Linked DNA regions of Homo sapiens. The protein of the gene in region 4 purifies or fractionates together with the protein of the main gene of each other region. This does not show direct contact. Each region holds a gene or a part of one and is shown on either strand. Other genes may lie near its edges.

Region 1 (4,007 bases), on a different chromosome or scaffold from region 4:
TTCTCATTATTCAATTCCCACCTATGAGTGAGAATATGCAGTGTTTGGTTTTTTGTTCTTGCGATAGTTTACTGAGAATGATGATTTCCAATTTCATCCATGTCCCTACAAAGGACACGAACTCATCATTTTTTATGGCTGCATAGTATTCCATGGTGTATATGTGCCACATTTTCTTACAAAAGTAATTTAACCAATATAATACATGTGGATAGTTTTAAAGTGAAATGTCACGAAAAGTCTCTAAATTAAACACAGCCATCTCCTGCCTCACTCCTCTCTGGGAGCCCTACTCTCCACAAGCGAGGTGAGTTCTCTCTTTCTGGTAACTGGGTTTCCTTTAATTAAGTCATTAAAAGAGCACATACTGCGCCCCTGTGTGCTAGACACTATTCTGGGCACAGGGGAAACAAACAGAAAACTCAAAAACCCTTACACTCATGGATCTTACAGTTTCTTTCTTCTCATTTCTACAAAAGGTTTAGGAAACTGAATTTCAGAGCTGTTTCTTCCCCGCTCTGACAGAGTCGTGAGCTCTTACAGAGCCCCTCACTTGTTCCCCTGGTCCTCCTGGAAGGGCAGTGCCATCACATACTGACTGCTGTCTTAGTCTTCCCTCACTGTCCCTCTAGACCTGTGCCATTCTGAGCTGGATCTTCCTGCTGGCTTCATTTTCCTCTTTCTGGGATCATGCCCTTGTCCTGGTGAAGTATATCCTCCTAAACTTTCTAAGAAAGTACATTTCTAAGAAGTCTCTGAGAAAGATAATCTTGGCTTCCTCCTCTTTCTTGCACATCTGTTGGTATTCAGCCTTTACTTGCACACTTACAGTTTGGCTAAGTTTAGAATTTTAGGTTGAAGAATTATTTCACCCTGAGTTTTGAAGGCAATGCTTCCATTTCTTTTAGCTTCCAATGTTGCTGTGGAAGGGTGCAAAGCAATTCCATTTTTCACACTTTATATGTGGCTGCTTTTTCCCTCTTGGAACCTTTCTGGTCTTCCTTACTTCATCTGTGGTGTTCTGAAATTTCACATGGCACGCTCTGGTCTGGACTTTTTCCTTACTATGTTTGATTTTAGGTGGGCCAATTAATCTGGAATCTCATTCCTTCAGTGAAACATTTTCTTCTATTATTCTCTCTGCTCTTCTCTCTTCTGGAACTCCTAATAGTCATTGCATCTTCTGGATTAATTCTGGAGGATTCTTTATGTCATCTCTCCCATTTTTCACCATGAGTTTATTTAACATATTATTCTGATTGCTCTTTTTAAGTATGACTTTGTTTCTATTACATACTCCAATGCAATCTCTGCTCTTCTTCCTAAGGATACTGTGGTTTTAGTGTGTTTTTCTTACTCCCTCAAAGTTCCAGCTTCTTTACTTTGAGCTCTCTCTTTTGCTATAGAAACTTTCTTCAAAATTCTGCCTGATCATTAAGAGCAAGGAATGAAAAAGTCTAAAAGAAGCTCTTTATGTGTGGGTGGAGCAGGTGGGCTTGGAGGGTTTCACTTTCAGATGACTGGATAGAGACTGGGCTGTTTGACTGGGAAAGCAAAATGTCACTACCTTCAAGCCTTTCCTTTCTGACTATTCATTTTTCTGCAGAGAAGGCTCCTTTCTCCTATGTGGGACATACACACCTGGCTGCCAGCGACCAGGGAAGAGGTAGGGGAGGTGGGTTGGGGGCCAGAGGCTTTCATTTTCACTTAATTTCCCTCTTTTCAGGCCTGACCCCATGCCCTCAGGTGGGCCTTATGACCTTGAGTCTAGACTCCATTTCAACGTAAAAGACTGAACCTCTTATTTCGTGTGTAAACATGAACCTCTGTAACCTCTACCTCCTGTAGAACCTGATGCTTCCAAATCCTGACCTTTTCTGGGACTCCAGAGGAAGAAATGGCTTCCCCCATTACAGTACTTAAGGTGGAGCTCCTTCTGCTGTCAGAGCACCATCTACTTCCTATCTTTAAGATTTTTTTGGAAATCTCTCAATCATAATTGTGCACTCACTCAATCTTGGCCTTTTTGAGTTACTTCAATTTCAGTTACTTAACAGACATTTCAGTGGGGTTCTGAGAGGGAAGACATAAATGTCTAATTGAATCCACCATGTTTAATCAATGCTTCCAGAAAAATGATGGTGATTAAAGGTGGTTATGGTATTTTTGAAGCAATTATTGAACTTCAATTACTTAATTAATTTTTGAGATGGAGTTTTGCTCTTGTTGCCCAGGCTGGAGTACAATGGCGTGATCTCAGCTCACTGCAACCTCCACCTCCCGGGTTCAAGCGATTTTCCTGCCTCAGCCTCCAGAGTAGCTGGGATTACAGGCACCTGCCACCACGCCCGGCTAATTTTTTTATTTTTAGTAGAGAAGGGGTTACACCATGTTGGCCAGGCTGGTCTTGAACTCCTGACCTCAGGTGAGGAGGTCTGCCTCGGCCTCCCAAAGTGCTGGGATTACAGGCATGCGCCATTGTGCCCAGCCAAACTTCAATTATTTAATATACGACATGTACTCAACTTCAAGTGAAATGTTTACAAATGGGGTGGATTTTATTTCACTGAATTATAAAACTATGAATATCAGTTCTGACTTTGTGCATCTGTGCAAAAACCACAACTAAAATATTAATCTATTTTCTTGCTTTAGTAGTTACAGAATACTAAACATGTAACCTCATTTGCAGTGACTGAAGTCATTCTGAGCCTCAGTTATGACCCTATTGTAATTAAAGTGTGGAGAGAATATTTTGTGGAGTGTGTATCAAACATCAGAACATGCTCTAGTTAATGTAAAACAAAACAAACCCTCACAAGGTTTTAAAAAGTTCTTCTTTAAAAAAGGAACACAGAAAAACAAGCTTGTGCTTTGATTTGAATCTAGAAACATACTGTACAATACACAGTGCCACATCCTCCTGAGAATGGGTCAGCCTCCGAATTATAATGCAGTTGCGCGGAGATCCTCCTGTATTCTTTAGTAATCCATGCTGCAGAGAGCTAACCTAAATTTTAGCTGTCTTGTCAATCAAAGTTTCCAAAAATGAAGTTTCTGAGATTAGGACAAGGAAGGGGTGTGTTGGGGAGGGAGTGAGACCTTATATATTGAGAGAATATCATCAATTATTTTAAATCAAATTTTCAAATATTTTTATTAAGTTAGAGAAAAGCTACCTGAATCGTTCTTGTCCTGCTGTATCCCATATTTGTAACTTTACATATTTACCACCAACATTTATTATCTTTGAACCAAATTCCACTCCTATTGTATGATTTGAGTCATCTTTGACTAAAAAAGAAAAACAAGAACAGCATATTTAATTTTAGAACATTAACAGGCTTATAGATTTAAACAAGTGACACTAAAACCAAGAGTTACATCAATGGGGAATGGACATTACTCTAGCCATTCATTTCTCCAACATTCCATTGAGAAGATGCATTTAGTTTTAAAGATAATACACACAGCCCCTATTCTCAAAGAGACATAAAGATTTTTCTCAAAACCCCCAAACAAATGATACATTTAAAAACCTATGCCTGAAAGTAGCCCTGCCATATCCGAACCACATCCAACTGTGCACTGTTAAGATGCTCACAGATGGTGACTGCTGACATACCAGCGTACCATTCTGAAGGGCATAACGCCCAGTGACAGGTGTGGAACTCAGTAAGTAATGAGGTGGAGACAGTTTCAACTACTGTATTTGAATGGTTAAATATTTTAAAGAAATAACAGTGAGTGGAAGGAAAAGCAGAGGAAAAGGGAAAAGGAGGAAAAAAATTGAACCAAAGAAAAAACACCCTCCAAAAAACCCCAAAACAAAGCACCCTCCAAAAAACCCCAAAATAAAACACCCTCCAACAAACCCCAAAACAATACACCCTCCAATAAACCCCAAAACAAAACCCTATGCAAGCTACAGGTGTTTGAGATTTCATTAATCGTAGTGTTCTATGGAAATGATTTGGGATGAATTTGTTGGAGAAATTAGTACTATT
Region 2 (4,007 bases), on a different chromosome or scaffold from region 4:
GTGTTAACCGATCTGAAAAGCTTATTAAACATACCCTCTCACTGCAGTATTCTATTCTATAGTGGCAAGAGAAGTTACTACAAGATTTACAATGTTCAGTTTACGAGTTACACACACCAAAGCTTTCTGTAAAACCCAGTTACTTGCAATATTTTTTTTTTATTTATATAAAGAATCGTAAGGGATCAACAGTGTCTGTTTTTGGCAAAGACAAATCCCTTTAAATCAATTCCCACAATGGTCATAAAAACTTTAAAAATATTCAGCCTCCCAATTCTAAGTAGTTTTTAAAAATACAAGCTACTTGGCATCACCAATTTTTCAAAAATGGTTTTCAAGCGGCTGTTAAAGTCCCAGCTATAAGCCAGGCCAGCTGGGTGCCGGCTGTTTTATGATTCTGACCACAAGAGGCCATGGAACCACAGCATATCTGCTATCTTTTCATAATCTAAAGGTGAACATTAAATTCTATTTCTTTCTCATGCGAAAATAAGACTTAAACAACAACTTCTAACTGCTAGCTTTTTCCTTGTCTTTAAAAACACAGGCTAGAAAAACCTCCAACATGAAAAATACATCTTTGTCACATCAGTATCGTGATGGAAAGTTTAAATTATCTCAGTATTTTCTATGAAGTAAAAAAAATCATTCATTCATATTTAAATGAAGAACCATTAGGTCCTAGTAGCTATCATGAAAGTACAAGGTATAATTTTATATTATTTTGATAATATGGGTTTAGATAAAAGAATCTAGCTCATTAGCTCCCATCTTGCCTATTCTGTTGTTACTTATAGCCTGATCTTTCTTATCAGTCTACAGTATTTCTGGTGATTATTAGAAGTTCAATGCTTTAATGTGGCCAAATCTGTCATAAGGAAATGATAAGTGAAAGGATCTCGGCGGCAGCTGCATGCACTTACTTAATGTTAGAAAATGACATGCAAAATGGAAGGATACATAGCATAATGGCCTGAGCTTCAATAACAGGCTGAGCATGATTAATACTCTTCCATAATTACTGTTCCTCAACCTGCTATTATTGAGGAGTTTAGAATACCCCAGTCCTGTAAATGTGGCCACTCTGGTAAAAGTAACTACTCTCTGTGTGTGCATTATTGTTATTAAGCCTTATTAATGCATTTCAAGCCTGTGTAACTTTTTGGCAAAAGAAGCCCTGAACAGCAGGGACATAATCAATAGTATTAACACACACAATTTGTAATTTGTCCAACCTAGAATCATATATTTATAGTGAATGCCTTTGGGTTACAAGATTGTGTTTTCCAAGCCATCAGAAAGTGACAGGACAGACTACCAGTAAACTGGCTAAATATAGATCCCACTGTTGAAAGGAAGGAGGAAGGGAGGGAAGGAGGAAAAGGAGGAGGAAGAGAAAAAGGAAGAACTTACTAATAATGCTGGTGTGTTGACATCGACATGACTAACAACCTGGAGTTCCCGCTTTACACTCTGATCAGGTACCTTGGGTCGTTCCAACACTGCCCGCACACAGTACTGAATGCTTCCATATTTCCCAGTAAACGAGGTGACCAAAGGTCTGAAACCAACCAAAGACATTAATTATGAGTTTACTTTTCAGTTAAACAAAGCCAAAAAAAGCATGGTTTAAAATGTTTTAGGTTGGAAATAAAAAAAGAGTAAGTCTATTTAGGGACTATTCAGTGTAAACATGCATACTTGAGAATCAGAAGAGACCTAGCAGTGATAAACTTGAATGGACATACTGCAGAGAAGGATAACCACAAAATTGTAGTGTTTCACTTACTCAGATGGAAGTTGAAAGCGAAATGGAAATTCATGTTTTCCAGGCTGTAATAAAATGATGCCTTCACCTATAAGAGATTGTATTTTATTTTAATGAAGGATAGTTAGTATTAGATCAAGAGTTTTCACAATGTAAATAATTTTTTGAAGGAAGTTTTTCTCGCTACAAAATGCAGCATACTCCAAAAGTTCATTAAACAAATGTAGAGAATTAAGTTTGAAGGGGGGTGTGTGTGCGTGTGTCTATGTGTTTTAGAGACAGGGTCTCGCTCTATTGCCCAGGCCAGAGTGCTACGGCCTTGAACTCCTGGGCTCAAGCAATCTTCCTGCCTCAGACTCCCAAGGAGCTGGGACTATATGCATGTGCCATGGTTCTTGACTAATTTTTAATAATTCTTTCCAGAGACGAGGGTCTTGCTATATTGCCCAAGCTGGTCTCGAACTCCTGGCCTCAAACGATTCTCCCACCTTGGACTCCCAAAGCACTAAGCTTATAGGGGTGAGCTACTGCACTTGGCCAGTTTTTACCAAGTACCATAACACTCACACATACATACACACATATATTCCATTCTCAAATAGACCAATTACTAAAGTGCTAAGGTTCAGAACTCCAACATACATATATATGTGTATATGGATATGTATATGTGTGTGTGTGTGTGTGTGTATGTAAAAATCACAACTGCTTACCCCCATTCTATTATACTAACGGGAAATACCAATATTAAATTGGACCAAAAACTAATTTAGCAAAAGACAGATTTATTTTGGGTATACCAGAAACATCACACTGAGTATTCTTTGAGCAGAAATGGAAAAGGGAGTGAAAACTTTATGAATATCATTAATACTGGGTATAACACAAAACAGCCAAACCCACAAGACAAGCTATTAAGCAAGTCATGTATGTATCCTTGAGCTCTCCTGACTAACACAGAGTTTCTTGGTGGCTAACTTGGAATACAGAAAGGGCTTTACCAAGCATGGCCAGGGCCCTTTTCTCAGCTTTGGGTTACCAGCTCCATTTTATTTCAGGCAGAAGCTTATCACTAGATTGTGAGAAGGCCAAAATGCAGGGTGTGGAGGGACTTTGTAAGGCCAGAGGCACCACTGAAACCTCTGATGAAGGCACCAAGACAATCTGTTTAATTCAGATCCAAAGTAGACTTCATGGCTTTCACGGTTGGTCAGGAGGCTCTCTTGAGAGACTTATACACTGTCCTTTCATTTCATGCTCAGATTTAATATTGAATTCCCTTATTGTGGATAGGATAAATAAGATGAAGAAATCGGAACACAGAGACAGAACTCTGAGATTTGCCTGGTCATCTGACACTAAAATGAAGATTTCTACTTTATCCATTCACTAAAAAAAAAAATTTAAAGAAATCAGTAGTGAAATGGGAATTTTTTATCCCTTAAATAAAAAAATAGAGTTTTATTTTATGACCTTAACCAAGTCAGCTGACATTTCAACTTCGTACTTTTAGAAAATAGGAACACATTACTGACCTATTAGGTCTTCTGAATCTATCCCCAATTTTTAATGTGTTAACATCAAGGGGGATAAAAAAGTGACACACCTGCCACTTAAGTCAATTTGAATACTCCACAGTTGGGTGACTGGAGGCAAAGTGAAGAACAAGTCACAGGGGCATGAGATCATGTTAAATTCAGTGGCAGGGCGGGTCCCAGTGGCTGACGTGTGCTCAGGAAGGTAGCAGCAGAGCAGGGACCAGGGAAGCATCTCGACCTGACAGCTGTGGAGTGAAAGGCTCAAGGCAATCCCAGTGCTCCTAAAAGAGCTGGGCTAAAGTTCTAATTTGAAATTACTAGATTACAGAACATGACGAAGTATTTACAAATGTTTTGAAATGTGTATTTCATTTGAGTTTAAAATGTGTAGTGCTTAGATTTCAGGCACCGCAGATAATCCTCAAAGAGACCGGGGGAGGAAAGGAGATTACATGCTTGTACACAAGCAATGACCATGGAGTGCTAGAACCTAGAGCACCCACATAGGAACATGGGTGGGCCCGACATCTTCAGGACCTGAGGGCTGGAATGGAGACAGATAGGAAGGGAAATTTAGATAAGGGAATAGCATGAGGAAGAGCATGGCAGGCATTTGTGGGGAACACAGTTGCCCAGGATACTGAAGAGAATGAGAGACATGAAGTTCCCCTTTCATTAAGCAACAAATCGACATCGGATCT
Region 3 (4,007 bases), on a different chromosome or scaffold from region 4:
TGGCTTCCATCAGCTGCTCTAGCAAATTATTTAACCCAAGGAGAGAGTCATGAGAATCTCTATCTTGTAGCCAAGTGGGACAGAAGCGTGGGTAAGCTGGGGACCTATGGACTTGCAACTGGTGTTTGAAGTCGGGGCAGGATCGTGGGACTGAGCCCTTGACCTGTGGGGTCTGCGCTAACGCCAGGTAGTGTCAGAATTGAATTGAACCGTAGGACACCCAGCTGGTGTCAGAGAATTGGTCAGTGGGGGAAAAACCCACACATCTTATCCCAGAAGTGTGGAGTGAGTAGGGAGAAAAACAGTTTGGTTTTTCCCTATAGAACCCTCATACATCAAAATGAATGAATGTAACTAGATCAATCACTCATCATAATTTCCAACAATTTGTCAGAGAACAGCCATATAATTAAGTTATCCTCTATTGATTTTTCTTTTCAAAACCAACCTGCCTTTCCCTGAGGAAGAAAGATCCATTCAGAGGCCCCACATGGCTCTCAGAAGCCGATCTGGCTTCAACCGCAAGCAAGCTCTCGCCTAGAGGACCTGTAAGGACGTTTCTCACTCAGCCCTTGCCAAGCCTGGACAGGGTGCCAGGATTTCCTCTTTCTCGCTAGGTTGCCCGGTAGGATCTCTGTCTTTTGAGCATGAGAAAGCAACAGGGCAGGCTGATGTCCCCTCCCCGTTCCCACCCATGGGCAGAAGGCAGTGCTGTTCAGTCATTGCCCAGCGTGGGCAGAAAGGGCTCTGCTGCAGGCTCCCCACCACCATGGGGCTGCTCAGAGCAGGGGCTACCATATCAGGCAGAGACCAAAGCAACAACTGAAGGTGTCTTTGTCCAAGCTGGTTGCCAGCAAGAGGTAATCAAATACTGGTTGCCAGCAAGAGGTAATCAAATATACATTTGTATCACAAAGGCCTGAATTCTGAAGGTGACACAGAAGTTCCGCTTTTGCAAGGTATTGCCCCTGGGCTTGATCCTCCAAGTTGGAGCAGAGGGCAGGACCTTTCCTTGAGAAAGGACACACCCTGAGCAGCTCCGTAAGGTCAGGTGCAGCAGGATCCCAGCTCTGCAGGAAAAATCCCCTATAGAATCACACCTTGGCACAAAACAGAAATACACACTCCCAGTTTATGTGAATAGAGCTCCAGACTTCTCTGCCCTGAGCAAATTCCTGATGTTCCTAAGATAATGCAGAAAAAAGCCAACCACTTAGAGCTCCAAGGCAAGGCAGCCTGGCTCACCTCTTTCTCAGGATATTCTGTTTTAATCTCTGCTGCCATCTCCACTCCAGCCGAGCCTCCTCCCACCACCACGATGAACCGTGAGCGCTGGACCTGGAGAAGAGGACATGTGAAACAGGGACATATGAAACACACCTACACATCCACCTCTGTCTGCTGGTTCAGCCTGTGGTGTGGCTCCCTGGGCCAAAGGAGGGCAGAGAACCCTTTCCACATTTTGAGTCCAAACGTGCTTCCTCCCACCCACCTCGCAGAATTGCTGTGGAAGATTGTGGATCTAAGCCTGCTCTACAAAACAGAGCCTTATGAAAACAGGAGTGGAAGGGACCCGTGAAAAGCCCCAGGAGAGGAAAGTCAGAGACATACCAAGGGCAACATGAGCAGGTTTAGGGTGCTCACATCCTGGCTCCAGCAGCAAGTTCAAGGTCTCTTCCCAGGAAAGTCTCTTCCTAGTGACTCTCCAACTCTATGGCTACAGCCAGCAGCTCTGAGTAACCCCGTGGCCTCCCAGCTGCAGGCCTAGGCATCCCCAAGGCTGTCCTTCCATCTGCCCACACTGCCCCATGCCTTCAGTGCACAGCTCACCTGCCTCACCATGTCCTCATAGGCCTGGATAGCGGCCTGCTGGCTGGAAACCTCATTAAACTTGCCCGGGAAGGGCCCAGTGCTGCCCGTGGCCAGGATAAGATGAGAGAAGGGCAGGGCCTGAGAGAAACCAAAAAAAAAAAAAAAAAAAAAAAAAAAAAGATGAGGGTAGGGCAGGGCAGGGCAGGCCTAGGCCTCTGCATCCTACTCCCGGCCTGCCAGCCGGGACAAACCAGGCAAAGAGGCCCCTCTAGGCACCCGAGGCAGCCCCCATGGGAGGGGGTGAAACCACCACACTGGTTAGCCCAAAGGATGGCACTAGAACCTGGGGAAAGACCTAAGGAAGTAGAGTTTACCTCCGCGTGGAGAATGTGGGGGCAACTGGAGCCACCCAGCATGGCAGTGGGAGGGGTGCCTGGAAGCAGGAGGCAGGGCTGCAGGATAGGACACTGCCCACGGGAGTTAGCTCAGAACCTCCCGGGTGTTTTAGAAGAACCCTCCTCCTGCCTCCGCCAGGAAGAAAAGAAAGGGAAAGAAAGAAAGACTGATCAGTAGTGGCATCACATCTGTGAACAGCCACTGCACTGAGCAACATACCAAGACCCCATATTAATTTAATTTTTAAATTAAAAATAAATAATAAAATAATTTAATTTTTATTAAATATTTTATTAAAAAATAATTTAATTTTTTTAAATTAAAAATAAAAAAAATTTTAGGCCGGGCACAGTGGCTCACACCTGTAATCCCAGCACTTTGGGAGACCAAGGCGGGCGGATCACCTGAGGTCAGGAGTTTGAAACCAACCTGATCAACATGGCAAAATCCCATCTCTACTAAAAATACAAAAATTAGCTGGGCGTGGTGCCATGCGCCTGTAATCCCAACTACTCAGGAGGCTGGGGCAGGAGGATCGCTTGAACCTGGGAGGCAGAGGTTGTGGTGACCCGAGACCATGCCATTGCACTCCAGCCTGGGCAACAAGAGCGAAACTCCATCTCAAAAACAATTAAAAAAATTTTTTTTTAATTAAAAAAATTGTAAACAAAGAAAAGGAAATCTTGTTTGGAGCCTAAATATATAAAGTTGACAAAAACAGAGCTGCTCCAATGGGAGGGGCTGGAGGGCCTGGACTCCACTCAGCCCCTACTTTCCCCTGAACCTCCAAGATGCCCTCATGGAATCTTCCAGGGCTCTGAAACGCATGGCTGGAGACTGCAGGACCAGGGGACACTCAGTAATCTTTCCAACCAGGAAACTATCTGGCCCCATTAATTCAAGAAGGGCTGGGTCACACGAAATCACAACTCATCAAGGAAAGGAATTGTGTTTCCTTTTGTCAACGCCCCCTTAGCTTCAAACACCAAATGGGGCTGGGCTGGACATGACACTCATCCAGAGCTGGTGGCAGCTTATCGATGGAGCTGAAGTCATGGCAGGTGTGTTCCAGGCTCCATGATGCACATGTGAGGTGGGGGAACACACAAATGAGTGAAGGGAAACCTCTGCCCCAGTGACGTCCCGATCCGGGGGATGTGGGACCATGCGTGTGCCTTTTTGTTCTAGACAGAGCCGAGGGCTGGCCAGGCCTGGGAGTTGTCTGGGACGCTGGCTTTTAGAGCATGGGCTCTGGGCTAAAATTGCATGGGTTCAAATCCTAGTTCAGTCTCTTACCAGCTGTGGGATCTTAAGCAAGCCATTTAACCCTTTAGCTTCTCTGTAAAATGAAGTTATACCACCTTCGCCATAGAGGCACGGTAAACATTCATGAGACTTACGTAAAGGCTACAAACAGGGCCTGGCATGCAGGAATTACACAAGAAATATCTGCCACCATATTCTTGTGGTTGCTGTGGTCAAGCCTTTGTTTATGAGGAATCCGCTATCTGCCCAGCACCAGGCAGGGCTTGGGGCTCACAGACAGCATTCTCTTTTTTTTATTTTTATTTTTTGAGATGGAGTCTCTGTCTGTCACCCAGACTGGAGTGCAGTGGTGCAATCTCAGCTTACTGGAACTTCCACCTCCGAATTCAAGCAATTCTCCAGCCTCCTGAGTAGCTGAGATTACATGCGCCCACCACCACACCCAGCTAATTTTTGTATTTTCAGTAGAGACAGGGTTTTGCCATGTTGGGCAGGCTGGTCTCAAACTCCTGACCTCAGGTGATCCGCCCGCC
Region 4 (4,007 bases):
GTCTCACTCTGTCTCCCAGGCTGGAATGCAGTGGCATAATTATAGCTCACTGCAACCTGAAACTCCTGAGCTCAAGTGATCCTCTTACCTCAGCCTCCTGAGTAGCTGGGACTACAGAGGCACACCGCCACCATGCCCGGCATTTTAAGTGAAATACTTTAAGACACGTTTGACCCTAAAGTATCACACTCACAGCATTGATCCCAGAGAGCTGCTGAGAGAGCTGGAGCACAATGGAAATGATGATGGGCTGTCGGTAGCTGGACACTCTAAAGAGCTCTAGCACGGTGACTTGCTTTTCTTGTGACATCCTTGCACTCTCATCTTTCATCTCCTGGATGTCTTGGGATACATCCTGGGTGCCCCACAACCGCTGGAGGACTGGTGAAAAGAAGAAAGAGGAAAGGATAAAAGAGAATGTGCTGCCCCAAATTCATTCTTCCTGTAAGGCAGCCAGGAAAGGGCCGCACGAGGTGAGGTGATGGGTAGCATCCATTCCTTTTTTTTTTTTTGAGACAGAGTTTCACTTTTGTTGCCCAGGCTGGAGTGCAATGGCATGATCTCAGCTCCCTGCAACCTCCACTTCCCGGGTTCACACGATTCTCCTGCCTCAGCCTCCCAAGTAGCTGGGATTACAGGCATGCGCCCCCATGCCCGGCTAATTTTGTATTTTTAGTAGAGACAGGGTTTCTCCATGTTGTTTCAGGCAGGTCTTGAACTCCTGACCTCAGGTGACCCGCCTCGGCCTCTTATAATGCTGGATTACAGGCATGAGCCATCACACCCTGCCTGATAGCATCCATTCCTAAACCCGCCTTTTCACCTCATTCTTTAGGGGCTGAAAATTTTACTCAGGAGTAATCAGAACCCTCCTCACTTGGATTCTGAGAGGCAGGGAAAGAGTGTAACAGAAAGTAGGTCCAGTACAATCATCCCTAAAACAAACCACAACCATATAATTCATGTAGTAAGGTGTGAAGGATACTCACTCTGCTTAGCATTCTCCTCTTCTTTTCTGTTAATGAGCAAAAATCTGGGACTTTCAGGGCAAAATGGAAGGGCTGCACTTTGTAGGATAGCAGGAAGGATGGTAAAACCCAGTAGCAGCGGCCATAGCTCTTCAGACCCAAGGATGAATTCCAGACCAAAGATCTAGAAACCACACAAAGATAATGCTATAAACCCCATACTTCACAGGCCACAAGTTCATTAAAACACAAAAAGTTCAGAAAATCATACATTCTTTTACCATGTGAAAAAATAAACAAATTGTGTTTCTTTTCCTTTCTCTACTCAGCATGGTTTTTTTTTTTTTTTTTTTTTTGAGACGGAGTCTTGCTCTGTCACCCAGGCTGGAGATCAGTGGCACAATCTCGGCTCACTGCAAACTCTGCCTACCGGGTTCACGCCATTCTCCCGCCTCAGCCTCCGGAGTAGCTGGGACTACAGGTGCCCGCTACCACGCCCGACCAATTTTTTGTGTTTTTAGTAGAGATGGGGTTTCACCATGTTAGCCAGGCTGGTCTTCATCTGCTGACCTCGTGATCTGCCCACCTCGGCCTCCCAAAGTGCTGGGATTACAGGCGTGAGCCACAGCGCCCGGCCTCAGCCTGCTTCTTCAGCTACTATCTATTATCTAAAACTTCCATATGTAATTGAACATGTGCCAGATATTCTTCAGTGCTTTACCTATGTTAACTTTTTTAATGACCCATGAAACTAACACTCATTAAGTATGAGAAGTTCTAGAGTACCTGGGCCACCAGAATTCCAACAACGATGCCCAGCTGGTTGAGAGTGCCAAAGGCACCCCGCAGGGCAGTAGGCGAGATCTCTCCAATGTACATGGGCACAAAACCTGTGCAGAGTCCGCAGAAGAGGCCAATAACCAAGCGACCCAGGATCAGCATTTCAACCGACTTAGCTACTTTACACAGTCCCATAAAGCAGCCACCAGTGACAGCCAACAGGTTGACAATCAGCATTGAATTGCGCCTGTAAGGTTAATCAAAGACAAAGTAGAATTAGCAAAGTGAGAGGCTCCTAACTTCTCCTCTGTCCTCATTATTCTGTTCTTCTCCAGGCTCATATCATCCCTTTTTTTTTTAATCTAACTTTTGTTTTTCACTTTCTATTATCAGAACATTTCTAGTTGGGAACCAGGTGTGATGGTGCCCGCCTGTAGTCCCAGGCACTCAGGGAGCTGAGGTCGGAGGTCGAAGCTGTAGTGAGCTATGATTGGGCCATTACACTCCAGCCCGGGTGACAGAGCAAGACCCTCTTTCTTGGGGGGTAAAAAAACAAAAGAACAACATAATCAAGTAAAACAGGTTGCTTTACCGATTTTTAAATGTGAATTCCAATTGCATTTCTAGAATATCTAATTGGCATTTTTTTTTTTTTTTTTTGGAGACGGAGTCTTGGTCTGTCACCCAGGCTGGAGTGCAGTGGCAGGATCTCGGCTCACTGCAACCTGCGCCTCCCAGGCTCAAGAGATTCTCCTGCCTCAGCTTCCAAGCAGCTGGGATTGCAGGCGCATGCCACCACGCCCGGCTAATTTTTTGTATTTTTAGTAGGGACAGGGTTTCACCGTGTTAGCCAGGATGGTCTCGATCTCCTGACCTTGTTATCTGCCCGCCTCAGCCTCCCAAAGTGCTGGGATTACAGGCGTGAGCCACGGCACCGGCTTTTTTTTTTTTGAGACGGGGTTTTGCTCTTTCGCCCAGGCTGGTGTGAAGTGGCCAGATCTCAGCTTACTGCACCCTCTGCACCCCCACTGCAGGTTCAAGTGATTTTCCTGCCTCAGCCTCCGGAGTAGCTGGAATTATAGGTGCCTGTCACTACGCCCGGCTAATTTTTGTATTTTTGGTAGAGACAGGGTTTTGCCATGTTGGCCAGGCTGGTCTCGAACTCCTGACCTCAGCTGATCCACTTGCCTCGGTTTCCCAAAGTGCTAGGATTACAGGGGTGAGCCACCACACCGTGCCTAATTGGCAAATTAAAACAGTTCCTTCATTAGTCATAAATGAAAATATATTCTACCTTCTAAAACATATTGTTAAGCTTCTATAGAATAAGACTTTTTTTTTGTCATTATCCACATTTGCCATAGACAAAAATAATTCCTACCAATCCTGGGTAAAATAATAAAAACATTTATAATACAAGTAAACAACTTCGGACCTTGTAAATTAAGTATGTTTCTAGAAACCCCATAGTTGAGTTTACTAGGGAATAATTCTGAACTATCCCTAGCTGGACTGCAAAGGCCAATCACTCACAGTTCATCTCTTGCACAGCTGGGTGGGAGCTCTCCAGGGTAGTAGAGCTCCAAGCAAGGGCAGTCATATTCGGGGCCAGTTGGACTAGGTTTCCCTTGATTAGAATTCAAGGTGTTCTTATTCAAAGGCATCATCACCTCCCTGCCCTAACTCTCCACACTTGTCCTCAATGTGGCTGGTAGAGCCCACTTCCTTGCCCAGTTTCTAGTCAATACCTGCCAAAGCGGTTGACGAAGAGTCCGACGGAAAAGGAGCCGATCATACCCCCGACGGAAAATATGGCCACAGACAAGGACCAGAGAGACGTGAGCAGCACCTCAGAGGGTGGGGCATTTCCCTTGTCCGTCAAAGTTTTATTGATAAATTCCTTTATGATCTGCAAAATAAAAGGGTTGGTGGAAGAACAGACTGTTACAGTTGGATGAGAACAAAAGACAAACATTAGGGATCATTTCCTTCCTAGAGAATCAAGGGAATAAATAGACAGGAATGGAAGGGGCAGATAACGTATTGGAATTTATGTTAACTCTCGCTGGAATAGTAATTCTATTTGTCCTGAAAATCCCAGTAGGTGGCAGCACCGATGTTCACAGTCTACCCCAGCCCTCTGCTAAGGGAACCCAGCTTCTTTGTAACTAACCCCTAAGGGATAATACAGGATGTGCATCACTATGAGGTGAAAGAGTGGGAGGAAGAACAGCACCGCCCAGCGTTCCGGGAGTAAGT
Region 5 (4,722 bases), on a different chromosome or scaffold from region 4:
AGAAGTCACAACTTCTTCCAAATAAAGAGTATGACCCATCTGCCACAGTGAATCAATATTTATTTCAGGACATGCCATGTCAAAATAAAACAGAGTCAACCCTTGCCTTTAGCAATTATATTGTATTATAAAAGCACTTTATAACTCCATCCCATCTTTAAGTGTAAGTTACTGGTATGTGGGCTAATGATTATCTGTAAGCATTTCTCTATTCAGATCCATAATCCAAGTGCTCTCTGAATATTACAAGGTGACAATAAGTGGGAAGTGGAGGAGGAAGAGGAAAGAGAGGGGACTAAGGTTCTCCCAGTTTAAGGTTTTGTTGCAATGAGGGGATGAGGAAGTATGAAGATATTTTTGTTGTCTTTTCATCTTTATACTGTGTTAAGTAACGTTTACAACATAAATTCAGCAGGCTTTTCCTGACCTATAACTCGAAGTTTTCTTCCTGCAAACAATGTATTTACAAATGTGTTTATTAGCTTACACAGCAATCTCACAATAACTAGTGAAGATTAAAAGGGCACACTCCTAGTATATTTGTTTGCAGTGTTTCAAGGGAAATACATATTGCCATGGTGAAGCTCTAAATAGATTCAACGAAACATCTAAAAATTGAAAGTTGTTAAAAAAAAAGCAAAGAAATATCACCAAAGAAAAAAGATTAATCGTAGCTTAAATATAAAACTAAATCATTAGTTAATTAAACTATACAGATCTCATACAAACGAAAACCAGCCTGAAAGACCCAACCTTAAAAAAATGCTAAAAAATAAGGCATAAATCTGCATAATATTCAGTTTTATTTCCATTCTCTCCTTTCCCTCTACTATGTATGCTTTACCTGATCTGCCTCTAGGGGCTTACAAGAAAATGGTTTCCGGTTTCCATCTTCAATTTGACCTCAAATGTCCTGAGCAAAGTTTTTGCTCTTCTGCTGAGGGTTCTTTTGTTGGTAAGCTTTAGATATCGTTATTTCTGCTAATTCAGTAGTTTTGATCGTAGTGCCAAATTTAAATTCTTCCACTGGTTCTTCTGTAAGGAATTAAACTTTTATGGTGTCTTGCCTGCATAGTATTATTTTTTAAAAAAAGAAAACCCAAGCAAAATCTATTGCTTAAAGAGGTTTCTTATTTTTTAAACAAACAGAATAACTCTTGACAATTTTAAAACCTTGGGAGAAATAGTTCATTAGAACGTCATTATCTTACCATGAAGAATTAAATACTAAAAACCTGTTCTGAAGCACTTGGTTAATTTTCTCTCCCAGAGTCTAATAAAGCACATGTGAAAGGACCATTTGTTTTAGTCAGAAATACATTTTATGTTCTGCTACTTATAAGTACTCAGTATGTTCTTTAGGACTCATTTTGAAGATGCACCAGGAGGCTTTTCTCATTCAAGCACTGCCTACCGTGATCGCTGAATTCTGACCTCAAAGAGGATCTAAGTAATTTATATCAGTGCTCAAGAATAATTCTGGACATCTTGGTCCACAGCCTACAGCAAGTGGTATCTGTAAAATTAAAGGATAATTCCAGTGGGCTTGGTCGGACTGCTGCTTTGCCATCTCTTGTTTGTTTTGAGGAAGTGGGGGGAGGCTAGGTAAGAACACGGAAATAGGGAACGGGGTAAGGGAGAGGTGAGAAGAGCAAGGAGAGATAAAGCAGGCTGTGAACATACTGCTCGTTAACCAAGCCATACTCATACTGTTGAGATTTCCATCATTTTGAAGTACATTATCATAACATTAAAAAAGAAAAAAAATGTTAAGAAAATGTATCTAATTTTTAAAGTTATCACTGGAATACGCTGAAATAGTTTGGCTTTTTGTAAAATATAAATAATGAAGACGCTGACTTTTTTTGTGCTTGTCAAGCTAATAGATCATCTCCACGAGACAGGCAGCAATGATGAATTGCAAAACGTTATTAATGAAGGGAAAAGGTTCAAGCCAATATTCACACTGCAGTCAATGAAAGAGTAAGGGGGCTTCTGAGGAAGGGTTGAAGATGACATGGGAGAGTAGCAGGAACAACCCCCTTCGCTGACTGTTTGCTCCTGAGGCTTTTCCAGTTTTATGTCACTCATGTCTTCTCTGCTTCCGTCCTGTGTGCTTTCCATTCCCGGCAAAGCTGCTGCTACACGTCGAAAGAGCTGCTTTACATTGTATCCAGCTTTTGCCCTAGTTTCAATAAACGTAACATTCAGCCCTTTGGCTTTCCTCTCTCCCTCCTCAATTGACACTTGCCTCTTGTCAGCAAGATCTGTTTTATTTCCTACTAGCGTGATGATAACATCACTTCCTCCTTCTGTTCTGACATCATCAATCCACTTTGTAGTTTGCTGGAATGAGTTAACATTTGTGATATCGTAAACTACTACAGCTGCAGCAGAATCACGGATGTACCTGGGAATGAGGCTACGGAGACGTTCCTGACCCGCCGTATCCCACAGCCGAAGCCCGATTGTTCCATCCTCCAAGTACATAGTTTTTGATAAAAAGTCAATGCCAATTATTGCCTGATAGGTGTTGTCAAAACTGTCATACCTGAATCTGGTGATCAAAGATGTCTTTGCAACGCTTTGCTCCCCCAGGAACACCAGCTTGAATTTCCTCAGCGGATTCCCGAAGTCTCCGCCCGCGGACATGGTGGAACTAGAGGAGCTGTCGCCGCCTCAGCCCAGAGACCTCCCGGACCGATGCTGCTCCAGCCGGCTGACGAAAAAGGCGAGCGGAAGGGCGGGCGCCGAGCTCTCTGCGCCCCTGCAAGGGCCGGTGGAGGAGCCCGGCTGGAGGGCAGCAGGACTCTCCACAGACTGGCAGCCGCCGCCGCCTCCCGGCAGAGTAGCCGAGCACCGAGCGAGGCCCGCGGCTGGGAAGGGAAGGAGGGCGGTGTCGGCAGGAGCCAGGGGTGTGCTTTGGCTTCCCAAGGCTAGGGCCGTTCCCTTCTTCCTCACCCGGCTCCAAGACCTGCGGGAGAAAGGCGGAGGGTGGCGGAGCCGGAACCGCAGACGTATCTGGGATCTCTCACGCGCGGCGCTTCGGCTTCCCCAGCCGCCGCCGCCGCAGCCCAACCTGCTGAGTGCGCGAGCCTCTGGCGCGGGGCGAGCCAGGGCGCCTCCACACATTTTTTTAAATACACAAAACATATGTACTAAAAACAATGGGGCGGTGAAAACAAAATATTGCAAACTAGAAAAAAGACAAAATTGACATTTTAAAGACTTTATTATGTATTATTAAATATATATTAAACAGAAATGTTATAAAATTTAGCGTCCCTATCTCCCAGTTTCTGTGAGAGGTCAGAAACTTAACTTTCCTAAGCCACAATTAAGCAAACACATCTGGCCTAATCACATGGACCAACCTGTCTCCTAACATCATGCAGGAAGTTTCAGGAGCTCCTGCAAAACTCTCCCGCCTTGCATTTGAACAGATATGTCAACTGATACAATTACACAAGAATTGTATCAAGATATTAGACTGAATCTCACAATCACACTCAGCCTGATTATTAACCCTTCTCCTGCATCTTGCTCACCTAAATGTATCTGCATTTTCTATGAAGTGAATAGCTTAGAAATGTATGTCGTCCATGTATTATAGTGTAAGTTATTGTAGTATAGAAATATGGACTTTCTTTAACTCCCATTTTCTGCCTAGGAAATACCAATTTTTTTAGTATGGCAAGTGTTTCCAAGCATTGAGAAGTGGAGAGTGTAGGATATCCACTGCAGAATGAGGTCTGCTTGTCATCCTCTTAGTCTCCACTGCTATCCCTCCCTCATCTCTCTCTGTTTCATTGATGAGTATAGAAGATCAGTCACTTTTATATGAAATGAAAATTGATGAAACTAAGGTGTTGATTTGATTATCCAACCAACCATTTATTGAGTGTTCATTATAAGTCAAATTGTGTTCTGGAGAACAGCTCAGGAAATGAATGTTTGACATCAATGTACATAACAGAAATACGAACATACCATTAAAAACTCAGACCTCTTATGACAATCCAGATTCTCATGTAAGTTTTGTGAAGCTCTTTCAAGATGACAATGTAACAATTCAAAAAAAATTATTTAAACAAGTCATTCTTGAGACAGAAAAATGGAATTACAAGATCATATATGGCTATTTCACTAGCTGAAATCTTAAGTACTGTTTTTAGTCAATTGACAGCCATATAATTCTTAGTTTTATATACTGATATTCACCAGAAATTAAAAACTTTTAAAAATATTTCTGTCTCATTCTACTAATTTTAAAATTTCATTTATTTGGTTATATTTCTTCATTTTACCTGGCCTTGAATACTTCTTTCCTGCCCAGCATTAAGTTTAATTAATGTCTAATTTGTTTACTTGGTTTAGTTACTTTTGACCATGCTTGGTACACTTGTTGTGGAGCAGGCATGTAGAAATGTTTACAGGTTTATGGTCCTCACTCTTCCAAATCCCTAACGGCGGCACCCAACAGACACATACCACAATGTAAACACATACACACACACACACCTGCACACCCATACTCACCCACCTACACACACACCCGCACACACCCATACTCACCCACCTACACACAGACACACACCGATACTCACCCACCTACACCTAGACACACCTGCACTCACCCACCCACACCCAGACTCACCCACACATACCTGTAGTCCCCAGCTACTCCCAAGGCTGAGGCGAGAGATGCTTGAATCTGGGAGA
Region 6 (4,258 bases), on a different chromosome or scaffold from region 4:
AAGATTAAAGGATTGTAAACTCAAGAAGGCAAGCATGTGGTTAAAATAATTTCCATTCTGGTTATTCTAAAGTGTGAAATGATTGTTTTCAATCCTTACAAACAACTATAATTGCTAATTAATTACTCCCACACTCATCTTCAATGTCCATATTAACCATACAACCTTTTAACTAAATGCCACTGCAGAGATATCAACCAATTAGAGAACTATTGTTCAAAGCACAATACAGAATCACTGCAGTTGATTCAGGGAGTTCAAACTGGGAATTCAAATCAAGTCTTACCATAACTCTGATAAAGAGGTGAGGATTTGCTCATACCATAATAATTAAAGTAAACCTCTTACTTCATTAAGAACAGGCCTATTTGGGGAGAGTGAAATAGAAAGTGGGAAATTATCTAATGTCTTGGGCCAAAATTATTCACCTGAGACTATTTTTCCTTTGAAGCATTAAAATAATTGTCTTACACTTCACTTTTATATTATCAACTTAGGCAAACTTTAGTATTTCATTGTTTTTAGCCTCTCTATATGGTCTTTGTGTCTAAAATTAGTATTTTCAATACTATAGTTATGACTTAGCTTATCCCACACTGACATGACTAAACCCAAATCTTCCCTTACTGAAGATTGAGTATATCTGCATCACATATTTCACCCCATGAACCCCCGCACTGTTTTTCAAAAGGGCCGAATGATTATTAAAAGTGCAAACACTCCTGACATCTCATTCAAATTTCCACAATCCTCTACTAAGACACTGATTCTTGCAATGAGTTAGGAGTCAGTTTGGCTTTGTGGATCTGGTAGAAGCTCACCAGATTTGAGTGGGAGAGTGCCCTTTCCTTCCTTGTACCCATTTCCCCCATCCTGAACCAACATGTTTTTAGGCCCTGGATCTTTAGAAGTTTAGTCATAACTAAGGCCAACGTGAAACCATGCGTCATCCCAACTTACCATTTGCAGAAAGCTTCCATCTCCCGTTGTTCCAGCCTTCTTTTTGCAGGCCCAAACTGTCATTGCAGCTGTGGTCCCCTGAGCACCAGTCAAGGGCAGCAGCTCGGCTCTAGAAAGAGAGATGACATAAATCTAGGGAAAAGCTACTGAAGGATGAAGATATTTCCCAAACTAACATTAGCGAGAGGGTACTTAGGGCATACTGGTACTCGAGTTTGCTCCTGCCCGCCCATCTTCTGCAAAAGCTCTAGTAATTTAACCTGAAACCACAGACCCGCCTCTCCGTCCTTTTTCCTGTTTCCCTACACTATGCAAACAGTACCTCTTTTAGCTGGCCCTCCATGCCATCACCCAAAAGGTCACGTACCGGCCAACCCTAAGGCATCTTCCAAATGACTCTCACTGTAACGTTCACCATCCGCTGTCCCAGATTCGAAACCTACCCTGCACGGCAATCCGCAAGCACTAACCGTGGTTGGTGGCTAGAATATGAGTAAGGATCACCGGGAGGAAGGGATTCCTCCCTCCAAATGGACGACTGAATCTTCTCTCCCCCACGCCCCACCCCAGCACCACCAGACGAACCCCATTTACCATCTCTCAAAGCGCAAAAATATTTAAAGCAATATTTAAAATACTTTAAGTGCGCCCCGTTTCCTCCTGCCACCCGTCCCAAAGCCCACACAGTCTTTCTCAAAAATGTGGATATTCAGGTTAACCTGCGATTTTGTTCGAAAGTGGCTAAACTGCATTATCCGAATAATTTACTTTTCCACTCCTTGGGTATAACTAAAATGCAGTTGGACAGAAAAGAGCTTGCAGTTGTCCAAAGTCATTCCGGCTCCAAAGGGCGAATTCTCTTTTCGCCATCTCTCCCAGCCCTGGAACAGCTTAGGGTCCCTCTCGAAGAGCACAGCGCCAGCCCAGACCCCATACACCCACCGTCCCTGGCACCCGAACGCGCTGCGAGCCCCGGGCCTCCCACAGGAGCGGAGACGCGGGTCCCTGCGCCTCACGCCGGAACGGACCCGTCAGAGCCGCCGAGCCCCGCACCTGGAAGCTGGGAGGCCGCGAGGACGGAGAATCGAGGCGGAGACCCAGCCCAGCGCCCGCGCAGCTCGGTGCCCTCCCGCCAGTGCCCGCACTCGGGTCACACCGCTTGCTCTCGGGAGAAGCCCCAAGGCTCGCGGTGCACCGAGAGGCGCCCGGGCTGGAGCGCCCCGGCCGTGTTGGCCACGGAGTTCTTCAGCTGCTTGATGACCACGAAGAGCAGGAGGAAAAGTAAGAAGAGCAGGAAGAAGAAGAGCGCCAGGTAGAGCAGCAAGTTGAGTTCCCACTCCATGCTGGAGGCGCCGGCGCTCGCTGGCCCTGCGCGCTCGGCGCGGGCTGCAGCTGGAGGGCGAGCGCGCCGCCCGCACACCCACCTCCCGCACTCCCGCCCCTCGCGAGGGCGTCCCGCTATGGGCGCCGACTCCGGGGTCCGTGCTTTGCCTCCCCCGGCTCCGAGGAAACGCGCCAAGGAGCTGAGGAAATCCGGCGCAGACTCTCCCAGCTGGCACCAAAGCCTTCCGCTTCGCCGAGATCCTCTCAGGTGCTCTTGAGGACGCGAGCGACTTCCCTAGGAGCGAACTTCCGCGGGCACGGACGCCAGAAGAGGTAACAGCTCAGTCTTCCAGGGGAGGTCGGGACTGGTGTTTTGTAAATGATTTAAAAGTTCCACCCCCAACATCCAGTAGGGTCCCTAGCTCCGCTGCGTTCCCAATTAATTTATTTCGTTATATCCCTCCGTTCCTGCTTTCCGAAAGGACAGGGGATGTCATGGCCCAGAGACCCAAAAGAATGAAAGGTGGCAGTGAAGATGGGGTCTGAAAGGCTATGAGATGATTTCGTGCTATGAGGTGTCTGAGTGAATTCCAGTTCGAGCTGTCTTGCTCTTCAGAGTAGCAGATACATTCAGTGTTGAGTGTACTTTTCTATGGACAACAGGTCACTTGGAAACGCATTAAGAATACAATGTATTTCAGAAGTTATATAGCACAAAGATTTCAAATATTGGCCTCAAATTCAGTTTATTTGGTGAAAAGAGGAAAACAAGTTTACTCAAAGTGTTTCTTGAGTCCCTAAAGCCTTTCTGTATCTGGTTGACGTGACCCAAAGCCCATATCGCGCAGCTTTAAAAGCTGTTCAGTGTATCTATTACTGCAGAACAAATTACCCCCAAATTTAGTGGCTTCAAACAGCATAAACATTGATCATCTCTCACAGTTTCTGTGGGTCCGAAATGTGGGAGCACTGGCTGGGTGATTCTGGTGTCGGGTTACTCATGAGGCTCCGTTCAGATGTCAGCCAGGTCTGCCTTCAGCTGAATGCTTGTGTAGAGGTGGAGGATCCACTTCCAGGGTGGCTCACTCACTGCTTGCCAGGTAGGGCTGGTTGTTGGTGGGAGGCCTCAGTTCCCTTCCATGGGTGCTTCCAATACAGCTGCGGGATTCCCCCAGAACAAGTGATGAAAGAAAACAAAGCAGAGGCTGCAGTGCTCTTTACCGCCAGCTTCAGAAGTCACGTGCCATCAGATCTGTAATATCCTACTGGTCACACAGGTCAGCCCTATTCAGGGTAGGAGTCCAAGGACACGAACGCCAAGGAGTAAGGATCACTGGGGCTCATCTTAGAGTCGGCTATGACAGCTGTTAATACAGCCAGCTATCATTGCCCATTTGTAGGCCTAACTTTATTTTATTCTTTATTTGTGAAGATGCAGAATTGCCTCCTGGACTGAATTCTGGGGATGAGGGCTGACAACATCCCAGATTGTAATAAGTGGCTGCTCCAGGGATGACAGGGGTTCAAAGAGACAGGGTGGTATGAAAACAGTCTGTGAACTGCAAGTCTCATGGACCCGATTCTAGTGTCAGCTCTGTCAGTGGTCACTTTTGCTCAGTGACTCTCAGTCCCCTCATCTGTAACATGCCTTGCTTATCTTTCCCTTGGATTTGTTGTGAGGCTCAAAAATGAGAAAATGTTAAATAAAAATGTGTTTTGCTATATAAATGTCAGATACTGTTATTATTCTATTACGAAGGGCCCCCAATGCTACAAGCTATTGTACAAAATTTCCAGGCCCTAGGCCTCTCCATCAAGCATCTTAGTGCATAAGTGAGAAGAATCTTTCTTTCATTTTCTCTTTGTCTCTCTCTCAATAACATTATATTGATCCACTTCATAGGCAGTGGTATGCTGGAGCTGGCTCGTAATGACTCACAGGAGCTGATTGTTAAATTTTGTAAACCAATTTTTA
Region 7 (4,007 bases), on a different chromosome or scaffold from region 4:
TCCGTCTCCAAAAAAATAAATAAATAAATAAATAATTTGACTTACATTAGGTAAGCTCTGATTTTAACAGCACCTTTGGGGTGGCTTTACAGCACCTAGGATGGCCTTGTGTTCAAGGCAACCTCTACATCCCTCCTTTCCAACCTCCTCAAGCTAATGAAAGGACAGTCTGGGACTATTTGCACATGATGAGTTTCCTAATTTGGTATTCCTGGCCATATAAGCAGCAGATTTTTCCCAGCCATCAGACCTCCTTTAATAATAAGGCATCGTGCCTTATTGTTACTGGTTGAACTGTATCCCCCTCCCAGACACTTAAATTCATATTGAAGTCCTAACCCTCACCACCTTATTTGGAGATAAGGCCTTTACAGATGTTATCAAGTTAAAATAAGGTCATGAGGGTGGACCTTTATCCGATAAAAGTGGTATCCTTAGAAAAAGGGGAAATTCTGAGACACACACATGAGAGAACATCGTATGAACAGGAGAATGGCCATCTCCAAGCCAAGGAGACAGAGCTAGAATAGATCCTTTCTTACAGCCCTCAGAAGGAACCAACCCTGTCCACATGTTGATCTTACATTTCTAGCCTCCAGAACTGTGAGAAAATATATGTCTGTTGTAAGCCACCCAGTCAGTGGTGCTCTGTTCTGGAAGCCCTAGCAGACTAATCTAATTACGTTTCTACACTGTGGCCAAGGCATGCCCACATCTGGGCATCATTTTTTGAAATATCCTAATAATCCCATGAAGAAGGCAGGATATTATATATATTTTAATAGGTGAGGAAACTGAGGTTTAAAGAAATTAGGCAACTAGGTAACTCACTCCAGGTCACAGGCTTAGCAAGCAGTTAAAGCAGGAATGGAGATCAGGCTTTCTGCCTCCTTACCCATTGCCCTTTCTACTCCATTCCAGTGCGCCTCTGCCTGATCTACTGCGGTCTCTCCATGTAGGTTGGTCATGCACTTTTGCCCATAAAAGGAGTGTTGGACTGGGTTTTGCAGGGAGAGTCTGCAGTCAGTTAACAAGGTGCTGTTTGGGTTAGTCACTCCAGTTTCTATAACTACGCATGAAGTTTCTGATTAAAGGCAGGTTAAAAGCAGCTGCTCTATAAACTGTTCCTCTTAAATTCATCAATCTTAGTCTACAGTTATTCTTTAAGTGGAATCTTGCTGTTGAGTCTGTTGGAGATCAACTCTGGTACTCAGAGAAGCCCAGAGAGAGACCTGTGCTATTCTGAGTTGAGGGAAGAAATTACATCTACATATTTGCTCAGCAGCCCTCTAGCCTCTTGAAGTATATGTGTTTGCAGTGGAAAAATAGAACTTGGAATAAATATAAAGATACGAGATGGTCAGTGTGAAAAAGAAACCGAAATCTTGCAAGAAGCTCCAAATTGGAATCTTGAATAGTGTGAGGAAGGTTTCCCCCAAGCCAGGGAACCAGAAACCACAGCAGGTCTGGGAGAATATTCACATTATGCTCATTCACTCAGGCCATTTTTGGGAGAAGGTCAAAAGATTCAGACTATGACACGTATGGAGGAGCTGATCTTTCACTTGTAAAGGGTTTATTCAGATTCAAAGTCCATCCAGGTAAAAAGTTACTGGAAAGAGGGGATCTGTTTCAGATTAGGCAGAGGAACTCAATAAACTTTCTAAACCTCTAAAGTTGACCCTGACAGATCCATTGATGGTTCCCTCATTTTTCTCCAGATTCTTTTATATATTTCTGACTGATAGTTCTAGATTTGGGCCCTCCGATACCCAGAGCATTATTTTTGTTGACACCTTTATAACCAAACTTGAATTTTACGATTACCTGCTAAATCATAACAGTACTCACCATCAATTTCATCTTCATATCCTTCTCTCTCATGTATTTCTGGGATGTCCACTATAATATAAAGAAAATAAAAACAAGTTAATAACAAGTTCTATCACCATGGCTAAAAGGCAGGGAGGCAATCTTTACGAGAATGACTCCCCATTCTGGCAGGCAGCTAGAGAATCACCTCTACTTCTAGATCATTCATTATGGACATTACTGGATTGTTCTCCTTCAGATGACCTGTGTCTTCCTCCAACCACAACCAGTAACACAGAACTAAGAAGAAACTCTGGGTCTTCAGTGCCAAGCAACCCCTGCCACTGTGCCTTTTTAATGACTGGCATTCATTAGGAACACAGGTTTCATTTAAGGCACCTTCAATGGCATCTTATGCCCAACAGCAGCTGCCTTTACTGGGATGTCCATTTAGTGTATCATGCTGCACCTCTTCATAGGCACGCATCTCAGTGGGCACAAAAGCATCAGAGTCTTTCTCCTCTGGATTTCATGTAAACATATGGTAGTTTAAGGAAGTCTTGTTTCATCATTATATGTTTTAATTTAAGAGCAGAAATGGAAGGCATGTCATAATGCCTGTTGACCTTCACATATCTGTGCTAATATTTCTCATCCTTCCCAAGTCTATTTTTCCTATTAGCTTTCTTCGTGGTTTAGAATAGATCAAAGATGGGCATCCAATCTGACTAGCCAGGCTAAGTTAATTTACTATGAGTTTTCTCCAGTATTATCACTGTCTATCTTTTTCTTTTTCATGATAATTTGGGAGGGTGATAATACAGGTCTCTCTATTCACTGTGCTGTCCAACTTATAGAAATCAGAACCACTGAAAGTTATCTGTCTAAAATGGTAAAACATTAATAGAGAACATCAAATGCATGGCAAAGAGCAACATCTTATCATTTCTTCCTATCTCACAAGCTAATTATGCCTTTCCAAGCTGTCAGCTCAAGACAGCCCCAGTGAATGTGTATGGCCCTCTCAGAGTTTTGTTCCACCAAGTCAGATAAACAATCTTGAAGTCACTACTATAAATTGAAATCCAAAAATCAAGGCTTAAAAGAAAATCAAAATCCCAAACGGCTGAAGTATCAGACAAGAGGGAGAAAAAGAACTTTAGACCATCCCGAAAGCTTCCTTCATCAGCACTACATCTCGGGGAAGATCTACTTGACCATGATCTGAACTGAGCATTGATCCATCACTGTCACATTTGAAATTCAGTCTTTTCCTGGAGGCCATGGTTTCAATCATGTTAGAAGTCTTTCTCATTTCTGGCCAAAGTGCTAAAGCACATTCTCATCCCCCTCGGTCCCTAGTAAGGGATGCACAAAACAACTTGCCAAGACCCCACTTAAAAGATTGATGCCACATGGCACTAATCCTCCATAACTCCAGCCCATTCCTTGCATGTTTAAAGCACAGCAAGTGGCACCTGCAGGCCACGCCAGCCTCCCCACCTCAACGCCCATTCCCTGCATTCTCCTCCAGGCCCCAACAGAGCAGGTTGTTTCCTTGGAAGGGAGATGTGAACATGAATCAACAAGAGGAAGGTGGTGTTTGTCACAGGGATCAAATCGAGCTTGTGAAAGTCAACCCACAGGGTTTTTTTCCATATGAAAAAAAAAAAAAACATGGAAGAAAACCGTCACATTTCCAACAATTAATTGGTTTGATGGGCTGCTCATATGTCTTAACATCTTCACCAGTAAAAGAGGCAGAACACTGGATAAGAATATGTGAATCAGCCTAGGATGAGAACCACGGGGCTCCTGCCAGTGACTTCTGGGCCAAATCCTATGCTTGCTTTTAGGGATCTTGTTTCTGCCAAGGATGTGATGAATTCTTGGAGGCTAGAATGCCATCTTGCTCCATCTCACACCCTCAGGGAAGAAGTCTTAGGATACCATAGATCACTGGCTGGAAAGGGGTGAATGTGGCATTGATCTTAAAGGAAAAAGGGTAAAATGATGCTAATGATTTTGAGAACATTTTATCACAGGAGATCACGGCCTCTTGTCTCTGGAGGTTGAGGACTGGATGAGATGATTTCCTAAGAATTGGCCCATTTCTAAGACTCAATGAAATCAATTGCCCAGATGCAGCTGAGATTTCTGCACCTGGAGAATCAAAGGCTACTTAAGGTGAAGAA

What was found.
Region 1: the proteins of SLC2A3 (region 4) and RAB4A purify together in Homo sapiens (affinity purification with mass spectrometry; one large-scale study listed by BioGRID and IntAct). This does not show direct contact.
Region 2: the proteins of SLC2A3 (region 4) and ARRDC4 purify together in Homo sapiens (affinity purification with mass spectrometry; one large-scale study listed by BioGRID and IntAct). This does not show direct contact.
Region 3: the proteins of SLC2A3 (region 4) and AIFM2 purify together in Homo sapiens (affinity purification with mass spectrometry; one large-scale study listed by BioGRID and IntAct). This does not show direct contact.
Region 5: the proteins of SLC2A3 (region 4) and RAB6D purify together in Homo sapiens (affinity purification with mass spectrometry; one large-scale study listed by BioGRID and IntAct). This does not show direct contact.
Region 6: the proteins of SLC2A3 (region 4) and SMIM43 purify together in Homo sapiens (co-immunoprecipitation; one study listed by IntAct). This does not show direct contact.
Region 7: the proteins of SLC2A3 (region 4) and NRP2 purify together in Homo sapiens (affinity purification with mass spectrometry; one large-scale study listed by BioGRID and IntAct). This does not show direct contact.

What each region holds. Positions count from the first base shown.
Region 1 is NC_000001.11:229,288,016-229,292,022, reverse strand, and holds part of RAB4A (ras-related protein Rab-4A), read right to left. Parts: intron 3,295-4,007; coding exon 3,180-3,294; intron 1-3,179. UniProt on the Homo sapiens protein: The small GTPases Rab are key regulators of intracellular membrane trafficking, from the formation of transport vesicles to their fusion with membranes.
Region 2 is NC_000015.10:97,963,449-97,967,455, reverse strand, and holds part of ARRDC4 (arrestin domain-containing protein 4), read right to left. Parts: intron 1,857-4,007; coding exon 1,790-1,856; intron 1,562-1,789; coding exon 1,414-1,561; intron 1-1,413. UniProt on the Homo sapiens protein: Functions as an adapter recruiting ubiquitin-protein ligases to their specific substrates. Plays a role in endocytosis of activated G protein-coupled receptors (GPCRs).
Region 3 is NC_000010.11:70,119,262-70,123,268, forward strand, and holds part of AIFM2 (ferroptosis suppressor protein 1), read right to left. Parts: intron 1,951-4,007; coding exon 1,831-1,950; intron 1,339-1,830; coding exon 1,246-1,338; intron 1-1,245. UniProt on the Homo sapiens protein: A NAD(P)H-dependent oxidoreductase that acts as a key inhibitor of ferroptosis.
Region 4 is NC_000012.12:7,929,491-7,933,497, forward strand, and holds part of SLC2A3 (solute carrier family 2, facilitated glucose transporter member 3), read right to left. Parts: intron 3,658-4,007; coding exon 3,497-3,657; intron 1,996-3,496; coding exon 1,755-1,995; intron 1,153-1,754; coding exon 990-1,152; intron 382-989; coding exon 194-381; intron 1-193. UniProt on the Homo sapiens protein: Facilitative glucose transporter. Can also mediate the uptake of various other monosaccharides across the cell membrane. Mediates the uptake of glucose, 2-deoxyglucose, galactose, mannose, xylose and fucose, and probably also dehydroascorbate.
Region 5 is NC_000002.12:131,361,069-131,365,790, forward strand, and holds the start of RAB6D (ras-related protein Rab-6D), read right to left. Parts: upstream 3,101-4,722; 5' UTR 2,653-3,100; coding exon 1,888-2,652; 3' UTR 1-1,887.
Region 6 is NC_000004.12:121,762,804-121,767,061, forward strand, and holds the start of SMIM43 (small integral membrane protein 43), read right to left. Parts: upstream 2,362-4,258; 5' UTR 2,303-2,361; coding exon 2,111-2,302; 3' UTR 2,014-2,110; exon of another isoform or gene 1,782-2,013; intron 1,070-1,781; 3' UTR 961-1,069; intron 1-960. UniProt on the Homo sapiens protein: Required for mesendoderm differentiation. Interacts with glucose transporters and promotes glucose uptake. Probably augments the glucose uptake capacity of glucose transporter proteins to meet the energy needs of mesendoderm differentiation.
Region 7 is NC_000002.12:205,790,130-205,794,136, reverse strand, and holds part of NRP2 (neuropilin-2 isoform 2 precursor), read right to left. Parts: exon of another isoform or gene 2,603-4,007; intron 1,903-2,602; coding exon 1,852-1,902; intron 1-1,851.